2 separate regions of the Homo sapiens genome follow, and region 2 is linked to region 1. The links come from fine-mapping of genetic effects on gene expression. Tissue or cell type: whole blood. Region 1 holds a variant in brackets; the other region holds the start of a gene. All regions are shown on one strand. Distances are between the middles of the regions.

Region 1 (10,546 bases):
CACACACACACACACACACACACACAATGTGTACTGAGTGAAGATGTAAAATGTATTTCTTACTGTGGTTCACAACAAAAAAGTTAGAAAAACATTTCCCTCTCCCTGGCCTCTCTATTGAGATTATTTTATTTTCTGCATATGTCCAGTTTTACTTTTTTCTTTTTTGAGACAGAGTCTTGCTCTGTCACTCAGGCTGGAGTGCAGTGGCTTGCTCATAGTCATTGCAGCCTCGACCTCCCAGGCTCAGGTAATCCTCTCATCTCAGCCTCCCTAGTAGCTGAAATTGTAGGTACACAACAGCATACCCGACTAACTTTTTTTTTTTTTTGAGAGGGAGTCTCACTCTGTCATCCAGGCTGGAGTGCAGTGGCACAATCTCAGCTCACTGCAACCTTGGCTTCCTGGGTTCAAGCGATTCTTCTGCCTCAGCCTCCTGCGTAGGGGGGATTACAGGTGCATGCCACCGTGCCCAGCTAATTTTTGTATTTTTAGTAGAGATGGGGTTTCACCATGTTGGCCAGGCTGGTCTCGAACTCCTGACCTTAAGTGATCCACCTATCTTGGCCTCCCAAAGTGCTAGGATCACAGGCTTGAGCCACTGCACCCTGCCCTGACTAGTTTTTTTGTTTCTAATTTTTTGCAGAGACAGAGTCTCACTTTATTGCCCAGGCTGTTTTACTTTCTTTAATTCACATGATGAAAACAAAATGTCTCATTTATTTTTCAAATATTAAAAAATATATTCTAGTCTGAACGCAGTGGAGGCTGAGGCAGGTGGATCACTTAAGGTCAGGAGTTCGAGACCAGCCTGGCCAATATGGTGAAATTCCATCTCTATTGAAAATACAAAAGTTAGCTGGATGTGGTGGTGGACGCCTGTAATCCCAGCTACTCAGGAGGCTGAGGCAGGAGAATTGCTTGAACCGGGGAGGCAGAGGTTGCAGTGAGCTGAGATCATACCACTACACTCCAGCCTGGGCGACAGAGCAAGACTCTGTCTTAAAAAAAAATACATATATATATACACATATATATATTTGTTAAGATGGAGTTTAAAAAAACAAAAATATATATCTATATAATATATATGAAATACTTTGAAAAAACATGTTCAATCAATATTTTTCAAACTATGCCCTCCCCTGCACCTGGGAATTCTTATATTTCCCCTAAGTGTCAAGAGTGCCCCTGGTTGAGAATTACTGGATGAAGGCACAGGGAAACCTCACCTTTTGAATAATAGCAGCATCAATTCTCAGCAAGGAAGCCCTATAAACCTTCTGTTTTGAGTTTTTGCTGACCTTATTTCTTCATATTATTTCCAGAAAGAATATAGAGGTCAGTGGGCCCCCAGGAATCTTACAAACTGATATTTAGGTTCTGTGAATTCTCAGGCTCATTATTCAAGTTAAAAGGTTGTCATTCTCGGCCAGTTGCGGTGGCTTACGCCTGTAATCCCAGCACTTTGGGAGGCCAAGGCAGATGGATCATGAGGTCAGGAGATCAAGACCATCCTGGCTAACATGGTGAAACCCTGTCTCTACTAAAAATACAAAAAATTTGCCAAGCATGGTGGCGGGTGCCTGTAGTCCCAGCTACTTGGGAGGCTGAGGCAGGAGAATGGCGTGAACCTGGGAGGCGGAGCTTGCAGTGAGCCGAGATCGCGCCACTGCACTCCAGCCTGGGTGACAGAGCAAGACTCCATCTCAAAAAAAAAAAAAAAAAAAAAAAAGGTTGTCATTCTCTGTATGCCTCTATTGTAGAAATGTTGATATTTGAAGGGAGAGAATCTTAAAAATATTAAATAGCTGGTCAGCGTGGCTACTGAATAATCCGAATGAATGTTGACCATCAACAACCAATAGATGCATTATACCTGAAGATCTCTTAGCAATGGAGGAAAAGTGGAGGATTAAATCCTAGCCCTCTCCCAAACAATACTCATGAATTTTGATAAGATACCCCAGAGCAAGGTAGAATTAGCCAATGTCAAATGGTAGTGGTAGCCAGGTGTTGTGGCTCACACCTGTAATCCTAGCACTTTGGGAGGCCAAGGCGGCCAGATCATGTGAGGCCAGGAGTTTGAGACCAGCCTGGCCAAAATGGTGAAACCCCATCTCTACTAAAAATACAAAAATTAGCCAGGCAAGGTGGTGCATGCCTGTGGTCCCAGCAACTGGGGAGGCTGAGGCAGGAGAATTGCTTGAACCTAGGAGGTGGAGATGGAGGCTGCAGTGAGCCAAGATAGTAACACTGCACTGCAGCCTGGGCGACAGAGTGAGACTCTGTCTCAGAAAAAAAAAAAAAAAGGTAACAATGAAGATTAAACTATTTTTTTTTAACGTTGAAGCTAGGAAAAATCAGGCATGGTGTGGGAGAAAGCAATACCTAGGAATGAAGTGGTGAAAGGTCTTCAAAAACAAAAAAAAAAACAAGCACACCTTAAAACAAGAAGGAGGTAAAGTAGGTTTTTTTAAAAAGCATTAAAGACTATAAGGGAAGAATGGAAGAGAAAAGCAAGAAAAGGCTCAGAAGAGGCAAGACAATGGAATGAATATCTTATTAGATTAGCTCAAGTCTGGAAAAATAAGGTAGGCCTAAGAAGAATATCCAGGATGCCTTTAACGGAAAGAATAGATTGAAAGACAGAGCCAAGATACTGCCTGAACTTTCCTCCTGGACCGGCAAGTACACAGGGAACCATACTTGCTTTAGGGATCTGAGAGCCAGGAGTGGCCTCAGAGATGAGGCACAACTGGCTCATGGGTTGTAATTGATGGAGCCAAGGGAAAGATAGCACCCATGGGCAAAGCTGGGTGCATGCCACACAGAGAGTCCCACTGAAGTGTCAGGCCAAAGGATCTGGGAAACATGGCAGAAATAACCAGGTGCTGGGCAGTGGAACAGGAACTGGAGCTCCCAGGACAGGACAAGCAATTTCGAATGACAGGTGGGAGGCAGAGCCTTAGGATTTCCCAGGGCACTGGAGTATCATCACAGAGGAATTTTATGGGGCTGTTTAGGGAGCTAAGCTGGTTTTACATAAATGTAATGGAGCCAAGCTCTTAACCTCAGCAAGAAATAATAGCCATGACAACAAGAACAACAACAGCAATAATAGTAGCTACTCTATACCCACTGTGGCCCCTGGTTTGAATCTTGGTTCCATCATTCACTGGTGGCAAAATGGGTCTATTTAACAAGCTTTTGGACCTCTCCCAGCTTCAATTTTCTCCCTTTTAAAACGCAGGTTATGAGAAGGACTGTCTTCCTGGATGATTACCTCCATTCCTATGGCGTTAAGAATCTATGTGTCGGCAACTCCCAAATTCGTTTCTCCAATTCGAACCTCTCCTCTGAGTTTCAGACTCCTGCATCCAAACACAACTCAAATTTACAATGGCAAAATGACATTTTTTAGATTCTCTTGACCCTGGCCTTCCTCTCCATAAATGGCACCATCGGTTGCTCAACTTGACGTCCTTGAGTCCTCCTTCTCCTCGACTCCCAACATCCAATCCAATGAACCCTAAAATAAAATCCAAAATCCTTTCCATGGCCATGGCCAATTCTACTGAAGTCCATCTATTCTTGCTCTAGAATGAAGCTGAGACGGCCATAAAAATCCAGGAGACCCTCATAATGGTCTCTGTCTCTTCTGCATTTCTCCTGATCACTTTCTCTTCTCTGCTCCCAACTGCTGCTTCTCATCATTGTCTTTCCAGGTTTTCTTTTCTTTTCTTTTTTTAAATTTTTTTTAGAGATGAGGTCTCGCTCTGTCACTCAAGCTGGAGTGTGGAGGAGCACTCTGTCATGGCTATCATGGCTCACAGCAGCCTCAACCTCCGGGGCTCAAGGTGATGCTCCCGCCTCAGCTTCCCGAGCTGGGACCACAGGCACACACCACCACACACAGCTAAATTTTTGTATTTTTAGTAGAGACAAGGTTTCGCCATGTTGTGCAGGCTGGTCTTGAACTCCTGAGCTCAAGCCATCTGCCCACCTTGGCTTCCCAAAGCCCTGGGATTGCAGGCGTGGGCCACCACGTCCGGCCCTTTCCAGGTTTTCTAAGCCCTGTTTGGTTTTGGTTTTTCTCAGTTCTCTAAAGACTTCCTGGCATTTTGTAGCCGTTTGGGATGTGCATCACTGGTTCCAACCTCAGTCCTCCTCCTCAGAAAAGGTTCTTTTATGTTCCCACCAACCCCAATACCCAACGACATTGGGTAAGAAACTCTTTCGAATTCACTTAAGCTTTAGTAAAATGTAGTCGTGCGCAGAACTGTGTAAGGTGAATCAAAGTCGGTGAGCAGAGAAAACCAAGCACTTTAGAGACAGCGTGTGTTGGAGAAACATTCAAACCAAAAGGCATGGCTTTTTATGGAAAAGTGTTCCCCTTTTGAGCTGTGGCAGGTTGGAAGGATTTGAGATCAGGCTGCAGATGAGCCGGGAACCCTGGGGGCTGGGGTTCTGTGTACTCACTCTGCTCCTCTTTTGCAGCAGCTACCTCGCCCTGCTCTCTTCCCCTTCCTACTCACAGTAAAACCACAATCTGCAGCCAGACAGTTGGGTTATCAGCCAGCAGTGCATTTCTATGCAGTAGGGCTGTCCATAAACAGTAGAATGATAAAGAATTCATCCTCAAGCATTTTTACTCTGATCCATCTAATTTGAGGCTCATATCTAAACCAAGAATATTCAGGAGGCTGAAAAGCATTGTATGTGATAAGGATGATCTGTATTGGGGAGAACAGGGAGTGGGGATGGATGCCTAAGATTGTTAGAGCAGGTTAAGAAAAACATGCTTTTCCTTCCTTCCTTGAAGACGGAATAAGATATCAGTTTAGGAAGCTGTCTTTCATGGAGGATAATGGCTAAAACCTCATTTCAAATGCAGCTTCCACGTAGAAATCCTCGCATGCCTGCTCTTTGTCTAAGCCCTCTAGGGTAGCTGGGCCCTGTGC[G/A]TTTTGCTTATTTTAGTATCCCCACAAACTAACACAGTGAAGGCACTTAGTAGACACTCATTAAATACTTGTTATTTAAATGTAACCTCTCTGGCACCCCAATGCCCTAACTTCTTCCTGCCTTTTGCATTTTATAATTAAAAAAAAAAACTATTTCAATCCTTAGAACTTGAGTTGCCCACTCAAAATAACGTGGGCAGCCTGGCAAGACAGGGGCACAGAGGTCTCAAATGAGGTGCACAGGATACCAGAACTGTCTACCATTCTTCAGACTCAAGTTCTATTCCATACCCATGCCGCTAAAGGAAGAATGCTGGAGAAGGCATTGCTTTCCCATCCTATAGAGGAAACTGAGGCTCAGGCAGAATGAGTAACTTGCTCAGATTCTCTCAGTTTGGAGTGTCAGGTCCAGAAGTCTCAGAGTTTTGGAAGGAGCCTGAGCTGACCACAGTTCAGATCAGGGCTCTCCTACTTATCTGCCACTTAGAAATAACGTGGGCAATATTTGCAATTTCTGTGGGCCTACCTCTGTAACAAGGAATAATGATAGGATTATTCTATCCTGAGCGATGAATTAAAATGGGATGATACTTGGGCCAATCACAGTGACTCACACCTGTAATCCCAGCATTTTGGGAGGCTGAGGTGGGTGGATAGCTTGAGTCCAGGAGTTCAGAAACAACCTAGGCAACATGGCAAAAACCCGTCTCTACAAAATATACAAAAAATTAAGGCCAGGAGCTGTGGCTCACACCTGTAATTCCAGCACCTTGGGAGGCCGAGACGAATGGATCACCTGAGGTCAGGAGTTTGAGACCAGCCTAGCCAACATGGCGAAACCCTGTCTCTACTAAAAATACAAACAAAATTAGCTGGGGGTGGTGGCGCACGCCCTGTAGTCCCAGCTACTCGGGAGGCTGAGGCACGAGAATTGCTTGAACCTGTGAGGTAGAGGTTGCAGTGAGCCAAGATTGCACCGCTGCACTCCAGCCTGGGCAATAGAGTGAGACTCTGTCTCAAAAAAAAAAAAAAAAAAAAAAATTAGCTGGGCATGGTGGCACATGCCTGTAGTTCCAGCTAGTCAGAAGGCTGAGGTGGGAGGGTCGCTTGAGCCCAGGAGTTCGAGGCTGCAGTCAGCTATGATGGCACCACTGCGCTCCAGCAGAGTGAGACCCTGTCTCAAAATAAATAAATAAATAAAAATAAAAAAGTGATACAGGAAAGTGTGTGCAAATTAGATAAGCACAAACAATAGTTTCCTTCTTCTACCCCGAGTGGAAACAGCAGATACAATTTTGTGAAGATAATAAAACTTTGTTGATTATTAAAAAAAATCAATCTGAAAATAAAGATTCCATGCATAATAAACAGTATTTATAGAACTCTAATTAAAAGGGCATTTTGACAATGTTAATTCTTGTGTCTGGCATATCTATTATCTGGTACACACATGCATGCGTGTGCACACACACACCTTTCCTTCCTCATTAACCAGTTTGAACAGTCAGCCTGCAGGCGGGAGCAGACAGGGACCCAGGAAGCCAGGGTGAAGAAGCTCCTAAATCAGATGGCTTCTGAGACAGTTTTCCCCTTCCCTCAGGCTGAGATATTCTGCCATCTGTTTTGATTAAACCTTTCAAAATTCAACTTGTGTTTTTCCTTCCATTCCTTTGAAATCTCCTTTAATTCAACAGTCTTTAGGCTTTCTTCTTTCCCTTAACCACCATCTGGTGCTTCTATTTAAAAAAAAGAAAGAAAGAAAGAAAAGAAAACACATACAACAAACACTTTGAGTTCCTTGGAAGAAAGGTATAATGATGAGGATAATTTATTCCCATAGTGAGGCCCATTACTATTTCCATGGCAACAGACTGTGATGTTCTGAACATGGGACTTTGTGATCATCACAAGAACAGAATGGCAAAAGGCCCTGTTCAGACTCTTTGTCCTTATGGATTCTTTGGGTAATCACCCTTGGTGGCTCCCAGTTGCCTACAGAATTAAATGCAAAGGCCTCAGGGTGGCATTCAAGGCCCTTCTAAATCTGGTCCAGTCATGCCAGGCTCGCCGTCTGCCAATCCCAGGGCACATGGTCCTCTGGCATTCTCTACAGCTCACTGCGCCCTGGACATATCACAAGCTCTCACACCTCCATTCCTTTGCCTCCACTGTGGCCTCTCCTTAAAATGCCCTTCCTCAACTTCCCTATTTGTTTTTCTTTTTTTAACCTAATGAAACCCTCCTCATTTGAGCTTAGCTCAAATGTCACTTTCTCTGTGGGCTCTTCCATGGCTCACCCAGGCAACAGCAATAACTCTTTTCTGTGCTGCAGGCATTTTGCTCAAACAAGTATAATGACGCCTAACATTTTGTATCATAGTTATGCTCATATCTCCTTCATTCAAATTTGGATTATTTGCTCTCAATATCCATGCCTATTTCATTTTTGTCAAACACCTCGATTACTTCACATGATTTCTTAAAACATCCTTGGGGGTAGGTGGTCAGGCTTTGAATCTCCATTTTACTGTTACAGCCCCAAAGTTTTAAAAATGTCAGAGATGGGGCCGGGCGCGGTGGCTCACACCTGTAATCCCACCACTTTGGGAGGCTGAGGGGGGCAGATCACTTGAGGTCAGGAGTTCAAGACCAGCCTGGCCAACATGGTGAGACCCCGTCTCTACTAATCCAAAAATTAGCTGGGCGTGGTGGCACGTGCCTGTAATCCCAGCTACTTGGGAGGCTGAAGCAGGAGAATCTCTTGAACCCAGGAGGTGGAGGTTGCAGTAAGCCGAGATCACACCACTGCACTCCAGCCTGGGCCACAGAGCAAGACTCTGTCTCAAAAAATAAAAAAATAAAAAAAGTCACAGATGGGTAGTAAGTGACAGAGCCAGAATTCCATGATAGAACGAAAAGAATGCGGACTTTAGAGTCAGGCATTTGGGGGCTCAACTTACGTTAACTCTCTAATCTTCTATTTTTTTCATCTGCAAAATTAAGATTAAACAAAATCATATGTGTAAAGGTGCTTGGCACATCATAATATTCAAATAATATTAGTTTTCTTCTTCTTTTCCCTCAACATCTACTTTCTAGCACCATCTAGAAACATGACATTTTTTATTCCATTTTTGTTTCCCAAATTTTTATATGATGCTGAAACTCAGATGAACAAGCAAACAGATGTCTTCTGCATCTTCCAGAGAAAAGTTTTGCCTTAATTCTCTTATCTGTAATCAAGTTTAAAAGAGAAGCTACCCGACAGAGTTGTAAAACTTAAATGAAGCAACATGTGAATGCATGGAGCTCTTAGCACAGTGTTTGGCATATAGGAAGCACTCGGGATGTTTGCAATTACATTATTACCATTATCATCCTCATCATCATCATGATTATGACCATTATTTTTTGTGTGACAGAACAATAGACCCAGTGAGAATTACAAAAATTAATGAGACAGTCTCACAACTCTGTCTTCAGGCTTCTTGTTCCACAGCTTGACCCTGGACTACAGGCATCCGTGCGGTCATTGCAGGCTTTAGATTGCAGGCTTTAGATAGGGCTTCTGAGCCTTATCTTGTAATTCTTTCTGTTGGGTGGACCTAAAACAAAACCTTGCAGAGGAGAAGCTTTCAGTAAAATTTGGTCAAAAGAATGTTGGATGGTATTTCTCCAAAAATGAGCACAAATACTGAAATAAGCCTCAAAAGCCTCTGGTTCCTCATCACCAAGATACTAATATTCACCAGTGGCGTATTGGCTAGGAGAGTCATTTTCATGAACACTGTGCATGTCTGTAGATTATTGAACAGTGCTTTTGAATACTTGAGATGTTTCCATGTGTAACTTTTCTGCATAAGCTTTCTCTATAGGACACAGAATATTCCCAGATGAGGAAACAGACTCTGCTCCTGATCTCCAGGGGATAGGCAACAGGGTCTTAAGAGACCGTGTCCTGGAAAACATGTCAACCAGGTGTCAAGCACAGCCTCAGCTGGGTGATCTAGTGGTGGCATCACTTAGACATTTATTCAGCAAGTATTTATGGAGTACCTCATTCATGTCAGGCCCAGAGTTGAGCTAAGTGAAAGCATGAAATCATCTTTAGCAATCTGTACCCCCCACCCCCACCAAACCAACCACCTAGTGAGAAAGGACATTATCACCTTCAGATTAGGGATGTGTGTCTCAGAGTTTAAGAGACTTGTCCCAGTAACACCCACTTAATGACAAAGAAAGGATTTACATTTAAACCAAAGTCTCTAAGACACCAGAGCTCACATATTCTGGTGCATTCCCAGCTCCCAAGATCACTTGCAGATTCCCCAAGATGCATCACTGATGATGACACCCCAGTGACAGGTGCTGGCCCACCTGTCCCCTTTCTTGCTGTCCATCATGTCAGAGTTAGGGTTGAGGTTGGATTTGCTGGTTTCACCTCTGGCCATCGCTTACATTATGGCCTCTGGTCTGTGCCTCCTTGGAATAGGCAGGGTCCACAACACTCAGGGTACGAAGGGTCACGGGGAGGGGGTTTGTGGTGTGTCCTTTAATACCTTCCTTTTTTCTTTTCCTTTTTATTTTTTGTTTTTTTGCTACAGCTAGGGGAGTGGGGGCACTGATTCTGACTCACTACACACTCTGAGAGTATCTGACTCATCCCAGCGCTGGTGTTCTTCCAGCTCTGCTCAGTACACCGAGGTGTCCTTCCCCAGCTGCCTGGGATCGGCCAGACCCGTTCAGATGCTCTTGGTTCAGCCCTAAATGACACCAAGGTTCATTAGTAAATTAGACACATACACAAGAATCAAAAACTCCCCAGCAACCAACAGGGCTTAGGCAAGTTTTGGACTGTGTTGAAGCCAAGATTAATGTGCAATACCATTAGAATTAATGAACTGCTTTGCATCCAAGCATATAGTTCACATTTACATTGGTCATATTGATAGTTAAAAGTTTATTTTTCAGTTTAAAAACTTACAAAAGTCAACTATAAATATGAACTATTGGTAGTTGAAAGTTAAAAGTTAACCATAATTTTTTAAAAAAGTTAACTATAAGTTAAAACAAAAGAGTTCTCTTTAACCAATATTTTAGACAGCTGTATAATAAAATATCCTTCTCTACTTTGAGAATTTGTAAGAGATCACATTTATCAAAAGTTAAGAAACAAGCCTTAATTTAGCTGCTTAAATAATTATCCTTTTGGCTGTTCCCATATAGTAAATTACAGGTGTTTCTTCAAGTACATGAAGGGCTCCAAGTTCATTTAATTGTTCCTGATTGCTATTTTTATCGCTATGCAATCATTCCATTTCAAAAAAGAATTTTGTATTTGGTAGAATTTTGGCATTAAACTGTCCTTTCTTCTCATGGTCCTGTTCTGCTTCAATCTCCAGCAGAGCTCTCCCCCATTAATTTATTGTCAAGAGTGTTTTGTCGGCCGGGCGCAGTAGCTCAAGCCTGTAATCCCAGCATTTTGGGAGTCCGAGTCGGGCGGATCACAAGGTCAGGAGATTGAGACCATCCTGGCTAACATGGTGAAACCTCATCTCTGCTAAAAATACAAAAAATTAGCC
Region 2 (10,546 bases), 31 kb before region 1:
GCCTCCTGAGTAGCTGGGACTACAGGCTTGCGCCACCACACCCGGCTATTTTTTGTATTTTTAGTAGAGACAGGGTGTCACCATATTGGCCAGGTCTCGAACTCCTGACCTCATGATCTGCCTGCCTTGGTCTCTGAAAGTGCTGGGATTACAGATGTGAGCCACCACGCCCAGCCCACAAGAATCTTAAAGTGACATTTTCATCAAGTAACTGGTATATATGGCTCCCGGGTCATCAGAAAGGAACAAGACTGCAGGAGTCTCCACAACACAGGTATTCAAGAGAAAGAAAGTCCAGAAAGAAAAAAAAAAAAGTATAATGTGGCCAAGTGTGACGAACATGCTTGAAGAGAAGCCAATTGAAAGGTATGAATATGATTTCCACTCAGTAGGCTTGAACTCAAATGTCATCCCTAACACCTATAAGCTGTGCAATCTTACGCCAGCCACTTAACTTCCCTGAGCCTTGTTTCCTCATTTATAAAATGTAATATGTAGAGCTAGCACAGTACCTGGCTCAGAGACAACACTCAATAAATATTTGCTGACTATGAATGAGGGCCTTACAAGAAAAGCAGACGTTTTTCTACAGGTACTTTTGTAGTTTTTGAGAAAACGGTCTTAATTAATTCCTAATTAATACCTTTTTACAATATTTGAGAGTCATATTTTGGTCAAAAAATAAAAATGCTCCTTTCCTCCTAGCTTACACATTACTCAAAAGCTTACAGGAATTCTTATTATTTAAAATATCTTTGTAATATTGTAACTTTAAATACAAAAAGTAACTCTCATAAAGAAACCCTATTCCCAACTACATCTGCATGGACTTAGTCTGCTCAGCTGTAATATTAAGAAGGCTGTCCTAAATGATCATTTAAGGCTCTTTAACTCTAAATGTTGTAGTTCCTGGCATCTCAAGCGTTTTCCAATCTGTTTAGGAAAACCAATCAACACACACTAAAAAGAGAATCTCTCTCAAAAGAAAGAGAGAGAAAGAGAAGTTTATTATACAGAACAGAGTACCTAATGCTAAGGGAGTGATAAAAATCAAGCTTTCTTGAAAACATACCAGCTTTGATGCTGTTTTTGAAGGTCACGAGAACATAAAGGAAATCCAATTTAAATGAAGAAAATGGAACATGTAAAAGCAAAGACGCAAGATATCTATGATTATCATAATACTTTCTTCATTGCGTAGCACTTTACAGTTTGCGAAGTATTTCTGCATATGCCATCTACAGCAAATTTTCTGGAATGGGAAATGAAAGAATCAGTTTAAATGATTTACATTTGATAAATTTGCCCACAGAAAATCTCCTCTGAAAACAATAACATAAAAAAATTTTTTTAGAAGGGAATTTCTTCAGCATTATGTGTAGGACAAATTAGAGAGGTAAATGCATGCAAGCAAACAGCTATAAACCTACAAATCACAGAATTTTAAAACAAGAAGAAATGTGAAATTAGACCAACATGCTCATTTAATGATAAAGAAACTCAGGCCCACAGAGTCAATGTGACTCCCATTACTCCATGTGCAAATGACAGGAGGACCAGATTGCAGAACCAGAAATAAAGGAAAAAATTTGAGAAATTACAAAGAAAAGAATGCGAGAATTTGGTGATGAATTCGCTAATGAAATACCTGTTAGTCATTAATGTCTATGTGCCAATCATATGCTAAACACATTTAATAATTTTAAAGATTACAATATGAGGACAAGTACGTTACTCCAATTTTAAATATAAAAACTGAAGTTTAGTGTGGTTAAACAGCTCAAGGCTACATCAACCTAAGTATCTGGAAGAGCTAGGACACCTCTGTCTGTCTGGTCAGAGTTTCTTTTCTAAAAGATGCTTTAAAATTGCCCCACAATTATAAGCTGAAAGGGCAAAAATGAAGCATCACTCTGGAAAAACTGGATAATCCAGTACAATTAGAATTCTGGTCCTGATAATGGGTGCGTTTTGCTTCCGTGCTTGCACCTATTTTTATGAGTCTGGCCTGTCTGTGCCTAATGGTCAGGTCAGGGCTACTCAGTAAAACCAAACATCCCTGCCCTCCACACACTAAAACATACTCTCGGGGAGTGGTAAGAACAAAATATATCCAAGATGAGGGTGAGTCTTCCATAACTCCTCGAGTGACTAGAGCTTCTATTTTGGCATAAGCTACTTATCTTTTAAATATGATAACCATACTAAGCTTTTCTAAAAGCCTATCACTCCAAGGAGCCTCAAAAATTCTGTGTTGCAGATGGGGTTATGGGGGAAGAAGCATGGATACAACTCACTTTACTTAAACTTATGGAATTGGACTTATATGTTGGTATCAGCGTTTTATAATAATTTCCCTTATTCAGCCATGTATCCTGCAGAAATATATAATAATCATTTCTATACATTAATCCAAATACTATAGCCCACAAACCATTTTCCAGAACTAAGCTATTAAAAAAAAAAAACAAAAAAAAAACACCTTCATCTCCTTATGAAATGAAGCAACCAACATTGGTACCTAGTTGCCACTAGGCCATTTTATGACCTCTGACACCAAATGTTGAAAGGCACAAGGTCTAACTAAAATATAAAGAGAAAAGGAAAGGTTTTAAATGACTAGACCTCATCTTCAATGTTAAGAATAGAACATGAGGCCTATCCTTAGTTGCCAATCACCAACGGCTAAACTACTGCTAATCTGGGAAAGAAGCAATTTTAAAAAGTCCTTTCCTACAGTCTAGTCTTCCCAAATGGGTAGGAAAGTTAATCTAAGATAGGGAGAAATTTATACGGTTCTGCAGCCCAGATCAGATACAGTGTTCTGACATCCACCTCCTGAAACACATGGATTTCACCCGAGCCCACACCGACCACAGCATCCAATATTTGCAAGTAATGCAAAATGGAACCCTCCAAAACATTTTTGGACCTCTGCCAGGAAAGCAGCTGATGGTCCTCTGAGAATTTCTGTTATAATCATATTTAAAAGGCAAAAACCAATGCCAAAACAATCATGAGCGTCCCGGGGATCTCCTATGCTCCATGACTTAGATTTTACTCCGTGTTGTGCGTTGTATTGACCTCCCACACCTGCCCTATAATGAAAACTATGTTAAGCCACATGGCTTAAGGCCAGCCAACTCCATAAGATATGCAACATAACATTCAAACAATGTGGAGTCCTTGGGAGACGCAGCAAAAAAGACAAACTAAAGTACGGAACAGAGGTAGTATCTAAGAGGAGGTATATGAAATTGATGACAACCAAGCAGGGAGAACTAAAACATCCTTGAAAAACAATTATAAATCACAGTCTAGTATACAGATTCCCTATACAGAATTGGGGAAAAGAATTTCAAGAAAATGCCCAATACCCTCTCTCCACCACTCCACCTTTCAGCACCTCTATACCACCCTCATCACTTACTCAACATTTAGTCCTAGTGAAGACCGCTCACTGGATTAGCAGGATCAAGAAGACATGCACAGAACATTCCATTCTGAGAACAACATCTTTAAATTATTTAGGCTTGTTTACCACCCTTCCCTATAGAGTAAAAGCATGAAATGTTGCCAGCACTTTCACAATATACACCAGTTAGCACCATAGCAACCCAATCTTCTGCCCACCAAAAGATTAACACATAAGCAGAAAACAGGAAATTCAACAAAAATTAAAGTTTGACCTTAGACTCCCTCAACAGTTAAATGTCTTAAGTAGTAGCAGTGTCTTTACATCACACCCGCTTCATGCTACCCTTACAGCTTCCTGGCATAAGCAAGTTCTTGGGATTATACAAACTGCTGCTTCTGTTTGCAGCCCAGATTTCTAGAAATGAAACCCTGGAATTGAGGGAGAAACAAAAACAAATGTTCGCAGAAAGAGGCAGGAAGAAGCATTGTCTATATAATCCTAGTTTAAGTGAAACAATCACCATTAGCTCCATCAAGCACTTTTTTTTTTTTTCCAATAAAACCACTGCAGATCTAAAATACTCTCTTGGTTTAAACCACACAAAAAGCAATTTAATAGGCACAATCCTACAGGTTTTCTGAGAGAAATAAGGAAGAGATCAAGTGTAAGCTACGTAAAATTCACGTTTTGCACCTTATAAAGCAAACTTCAATGTTGTTAAATAACCAGTAGAAAATATCTACAAAAATCAAACTAAACACCTGTTCTTATAAGCAGCAGTCCTCTATTTTCTCTCTAAACCATATATTCCCAACTCAGACCCTCTCTGTGACCCACTGTTCCCAAAGCATAGAGTCTGAAGAAGAAATATAAAACATTTCGGACATTCGTTCACAAAACCAAATTAGACCTTTCCACAAAGTACAGGAGATAAAACAGAAACACTTCCATTTTATCTAATTTATGGCAAATAGTTCAAGGAATGCCTATTTGTTAAGCTGAATCAAACCCCACTGCTACCTTTAACCCAAAACTATTTCTAGTTGAAGATCCAAGAGACCTAAGCAAATACTTTCTTTTCACATTATTCTCAACATGAAGAAATCCGACCCCCTTCCTACAACATCATAGGAGGCCCCTCTGGCCAACTTTCGTTGTTATTGTTGTTGTTTTGTTTGCTTTTTTTTTGAGACTAGCCTCCAACCAATTCCAGAAGAGGAGACAAACCTCAAACAAATTTAACCCTTGAGATCCATCCCTCAACTGTATCATATAATCTACGCTTCACGGCAGTAATGTTTTAAGCAGACACTTGATTTCTTAATCACTGAAATGTAAGCACCAGCCCTCACAAATCATCGCCACAGAGATTCCTCTTGGCATCCACAGAGGGTGCTGGGACTGCAATTCACTCAAGAACCCTTTACTCACCAACATCACACTCGACATTAAAAACTCACCGTCTCCGAAGAAAAAATGTCACCTTCTGCACAAGGACACCTGCCTGTTCAACACCTCTACAAGAAACGAGGAGGGCCAAGCATGAGAGGCTAACAGATCCTCCAGCTTAAAGTTTTCCTCCCCATGAAACTCTCCGGACACAACACCGTGGCCTGTCCTTGTCACACACACACAGGCTGTATTGTCAACCCCTCCGTCTCCCTCTAACGTCGTCAGACTGGGCAGTGTCTACCCATGGGGGTAACTGCTTTTAAATAAAATAAAAAAGCAGCCACCACAGCTGGGTAGTAAGGACTGGAGACCCTGGGTGTCCGATTTTTTCAGGTCTTTTACAAGGGACTAGAGAGCGGCCCGAATTCTGTCACTGCCCACTAACCAACCCCACCTCCCAATCGCCTCGTCAACATGTTTGCTTCCCTTCCTCGGCCCTTTCGGCTGAATCCCAGGAAGGGGACCAAACCCGGGCCGCGACAGGAACATGTCCAGTATCCATCCCATGTCTACCTCCGAAACCCCTTCTCGGGAGAAGGGGCGAGCAAGCGCGCCGGGGTCAAACCCAAGCGCCGTCGAGGGCTGCGCCGACGGAGAGGGACGCCGCGGTCGCCCCCATTTCGCGGTCCCGGCAGGCGAGATTCCGAGAGGTGAGCGGGCCGGCCAAGGTCACGGCGTCGTCGGGGCCGAGGGGCGCCCGCGCCGACTTCCGGCTCCCCCTCTCGGCGGCGGCCCGGGGCGCCCGCTCCCCACGCCGGGCAGGCGGCCGCGCAGCTCGCACCCCCTCCGCGGATGCTCGCCCTCTCCGCGCTAACTAGGGCAACTGGAAAAGAGGCGGAGAGAAGTCGCTGCTGCAGCGATTTCCCCCGGCGGGGAGCAGCCCCCAGCTGGTGCCCGTGACAGCTGCGACCTCCGCCCCCTCCAGCCGCGCCGGGCCGCGAGGGGAACTCGGGGAAGTGGGAGGAGGATGGAGCGGGAGAAAGGAGAGCAGGGGGCGGAGGGGCGCCAGCTGCTCCCCGCCCCCTAGGGCCTCCGCGGCCGCGCGGCTCGTGACAGCTGCACCCACCGGGAGGCTCCGCACCCGCAGCCCGCCACTCACCTGCCGCCGCCGCCTCTGGGCCCCGCTCACCGGCGCCGCACTCGTCCGCGACCGTGGCGGCGGCGCCGCCCCGGCCTCCGCCGCTCCTCGGGCCCGGCGCCGCGGCTCTCCGGCCCCCTCCTCCGGAGCAGGGGTCCCCCCGCAGGGGGATGCAGAGGGAACCTGACGCAGGCTCCGCTCGAGGGAGCAGCAGCGAACAGGCGGCGGAGGCCCTCAAGGCCGCGAGGCAGCCGTCGGAGGACAGAGCTCAGCAAATCGCGTCAGACTCCCGCTCGCCCGGCCTGAAGAACAGGCATTTCAGCCGCTCTCCGCGGCCGCCATGTTCTCCTCCTCGGCCGCCACCGCCGCCGCCGCCACCGCCCCCCGCTCGCGGCACCGCCCCCTTCGCGCCCCGCCCCGCCCCGCCCGTTCCCGGCCGCCCGCCTGCCCGCCCGCCGCACTTCCCCTGCCGGCTCCGGCCGCCCGGGCCGCCGCGACCCGGTGCCCGCGAGCTCCGACAGTGCGCCCGGGACAGCGCGCCCCCAGCCCGCCGGGCCTGCCGGGCCCGCCGAGCGAGGAACCGCCCCGCGCCCTCTGCCGGCCCGCCCCAGCCGGCGTCCTAACGAAGTGTGGGAAAGGAGGCCCGAACTCTTCCCCGCCCGTCTCAACTCCTCCCCGCCCCTCTCCTGCCCTCCCCTCGGGGCGTTCCTCCCACTGCTGCCGGGAAGCGGCCTCGAACACCAGGGCGCTCGCAGCTAGGCCGCCGGGCCTGCCGCCTCCCGCTGTTCTTTATCTTTCTGGGAAGGTGTCGGAGCGGCGAGAGGCCCTGCGGACGGGGCGGAGTCGGCTCCGGGCCTGTCCCTCCACTCGGGCGTTCTGTTACTTTGAGCGAGACATATCCCGCGGGCCTCGTTTTTTATTCTGTAAAATTGGGAGGTGGTTGCCTAGATGATTTCACAGGCTATTAGACAAGAGAAAAGGAAGATCGTCTGCCCCCTTCGTTTTACAGATGAAAAGATCTGCCTGACCCGTTCTGGCTCTGCAATTCCATGAATTATCTAAAATGTCTGTCATTCACAGATCTTTCCCCTCAAGGGGCCCACACCTTTCTTCTTATCTCCCTTTTCTTTTTTTTTTTTTTTTAACTTCTCTAATAGAAGTGCTACTTCCAAAAGTAGAGTGTTCTTGTCACCAGAGGAATCGAACAGCGGCTGAACAGCCTCTCTGAGCTGCGATGGCCTTATCTGGACCGCATCCCGCATTCCAAAGGCTGGCAATGCAATATATACCTATGTCTCTCCCTGGGTTGTCCTAAGCATGAATGAGTCACTCGCCGTGGAAGTGCCTTGTAAAGCATACATCTGTCCATTCCTTTCTTTTATTCTTACCCCATTTCGCACTCTTACCCTTCCTCAATCCTGTCCTGCTGCTGCTGTCTCCCGGCGTTTCCTGCTGTTTCGCTTCCTGTGTGTTCTCCCCTAAATCAATCTCTGTAAATCCTTAAGCCCTTCCCACCCTTCTCCCAACTGGGGAACCTGACAGCCTTGAAAACACCAATCTCCGTGGCAGCTCTCTGAGTCGACGGGCAGCTTCTTTCACAGGCAGGTACTACTGTATGCTTTCACCATCCTCTTCCTATCCTTGTCACGCTCATAAAGTAATCGCTAGACCACACCCCCACATGCATTCATATATTCATTCATTTATATATTCATTCCCCTGATTCTTATCGGAGACCTACTACTGGGGCCCTAGGTGCATCTCCTGAGCTCTGGCTTAGCAGTACCTCTAGCCACCCGCAGAGTCCCTATCCCCAATAATAGCTGAAAATACCCGGGCACTCATGAGTTTCGTCCCCTAATGTAGGGCCTACTTCCCAATCTAGTCCAATGCAGACTGTGTGAAAGTGCCTTGTTCTAGCCTCTGGTGCCAACAAATGAGCCACTTGTGCAAGGTACTCCTGTCTCCACTAGACTCTAGTAAGTGCTGAAGGCCAAATCTAGTGGCCACTTCAGTCCTACTGTCGTGTGGCCTTTCTACAGCACGTGATACTGCTAACTCCTCCTTTTTGAAACTCTCCTCCCTTGTCTTCAATATGAGTCTCTCTACCTGATTTCTGAACTTGCCTTCGTTTGCACTTTTCTTGGGCTGCTCCTTTTTTACGGGGCCATAAAAAATGTTGGTATCCTCAAGGTTTTATTTTTTTCCTTCCTTTCCTCTGGCTTCGGTTGACTGTTTATTTCCACAGCTTCAACTGTTAACAAAACAACTCCTGAATTTCCTTCTTCCAATCTCCCACTCTGCAGCCCGGGGTCGTAATTAACTTTAAAATATCCTCAAGACACACAGTGCTAAGATTTTGTTGAATGACAAATTATTTAGGTGTTAATTTATATTGCCATAACCATCCATGTATGCTAAAGAGAGAGTTCTTTTCTAGAATGGTACTGTTTCTTTTTTGTTGTTGTTGAAACAGAGTCTCGCTCTTGTCGCCCAGGCTGGAGTGCAGTGGCGCGATCTCAGCTCACTGCAGCCTCTGCCTCCTGGGTTCAAGTGATTCTCCTGCCTCAGCCTCCCGAGTAGCTGGGATTACAGGCACCCGCCACCACGCCCGGCTAATTTTTTGTATTTTTAGTAGAGACAGGGTTTCGCCGTGTTGGCCAGGCTGGTCTTGAACTCCTGACCTCAGGTTATCCACCAGCCTCGGCCTCCCAAAGTGCTGGGATTACAGTCATGAGCCACTGCGCCTGGTAATGTTTCTTAAATAATAACTCTTTGACTTTTTTCTCCTTCCTCTACAAGTCATAATCACTTGTCAAAGCAGTTATAACACCCTTTTATGTCTCCAATTGGTAATCTTTTCTCTGGTCATACTCAACTTCTCTCAGACTCCATCTACTTTTACTAAACAGGCCCATTTTACTAATCCACCCGAGCAACCCTAAATATAGGGCCAAAAGATTCATTAGATTTACTTCGTGACTGTACAAGTAGCCTCTCTAAAATCCATTTACCTTAGCTATTTAAAATTTATTTACTCCCAAAATACAATGCCAATCAACAAGGAAGACTAACTCCAATTAAATGAAAATGCTTTGAAGATATTTATAAATAAAAATGTAAGACAACATTTAACTCTTATAGCCCAGATAGAACTGGTTTTAGTCCAAACCCTATTGTTTCCATAAATTAATATAATCCTTTGGTGGACTAGAAACAGCCTAGTTCTACGGGCAAAATCTAGAACATACCTGTTGGATTTTCTCCAGAGCATAATAGATTTCCAGTTCTATAAAATATATGGCTAGTGTGCATGAAATTACTCCAGTTACTGAGGCAAGAATTGATTTAACTTTGACATTCTTTTTTTCAAATAGTTTTTTGTTTTATAATAATTGATACAGACTCACAAAATATTCAGTCAATAAAGAACAGCACAAAAAGTTTAAAAATAAACTTTTTCAAGCCAGAGAGAAACATAGTAAACATGTTTCCACACCTTTCTCTATATATATTTGCACATATAAATACACTATATGTAGTCAATTTTACATAAAAATAAAATCACGCCTGTAATCCCAGCACTTTGGGAGGCCGAGACAGGCGAATCACCTGAGGTCAGGAGTTCAAGACCAGCCTGGCCAACATTGTGAAACTCTGTCTCTACTCAGTGTGGTGGTGGGTGCCTGTAATCCCAGCTACTCAGGAGGCTGAGGCAGGAGAATCATTTGAACCCAGGAGGCAGAAGCTGCAGTGAGCCAAGATCGCCTCACTGCACTCCAGCCTGGGCAACAGAGTGAGACTCCATCTCAAAAAAATAAAATAAATAAAATAAAATCACATGATAAATGCTCATCAGTAATCTGGTGCCTTTTACTGTACAATGTATTTTCATCCTAATAGTTAAATACTCTTGCATTGTGTATCTGTTTAGCCATTTAATTCCTTACTAAAAATGTTTACATTGTCTGTATTTTTGTTTGTATATTTTTGTAAATCATGCTGTAATTCTAATGCATGCCTCCGTGCAGTTTAGAAATTATTTTCTTTAAATTTCTAGAAGATTAATTGTTGGCTCAAAGGGTACATGTTAATTTTTTTACTACATTATTTACCAAACTGGCCTCCAGAAAATTGTTTCAATCTGTGGTCCTAGCCATAGTGCATGAGCCTGCCACTTGCCCATAACCAGCTCTGTATTTTACCCATTTCACTTTGAATAATCTTTAATTTCTACATCTGCTTAAAGGATAGAGGTTAAGAAGACTAGGTTTAGAGTTAGGGAGACCCAGGTTTGAAATGGGTTTGTCACTTACTAGCTGTATGAAACCTGGGCCAAACCACTTCAACATCTCCAAGACTCAGTGTCCCCATCTGTAAAATAGGATGCTAGCACTTGCCTCAAAGGATTGTTGCTAAGATTAAATGAAATAATGTATGTAAAGCACTCAATACAGTATTTGACATTTAGGATTGCCCATGAGAAAGTAAATATTAGCTCACACTGAGAAGGTAAAAAATCAGCTCAACTGTTCATCAGGCTAGAAAAATAGGCACAGATAAAGTCAGCTGCAAAGTTAACAGGATGCAATGTCTCC

What was found. PIP is the estimated chance that this variant, and not a neighbour inherited with it, causes the effect.
Region 2: NCOA1 starts here. The variant in region 1 is fine-mapped to the expression of NCOA1 in whole blood (TOPMed, PIP above 0.99).

Annotation. Positions count from the first base shown.
Region 1 is chr2:24,455,902-24,466,447 of GRCh38, reverse strand. LOC105374329 (a long non-coding RNA gene) reads right to left here. Exons shown (of 3, transcript XR_001739340.3): 3 at 3,294-3,374. Among named protein-coding and RNA genes, the nearest start is that of NCOA1, 30 kb to the left of the region's middle. RefSeq lists a cis regulatory region at 8,333-8,690 and an enhancer at 8,892-9,489. The variant G/A (reference allele first, on the strand shown) is at 4,965.
Region 2 is chr2:24,487,026-24,497,571 of GRCh38, reverse strand. It overlaps NCOA1 (nuclear receptor coactivator 1), which reads right to left and starts at 6,318. Exons shown (of 23, transcript NM_003743.5): 1 at 5,970-6,318. RefSeq lists silencers at 5,546-6,035, 6,190-6,348, 6,326-6,665.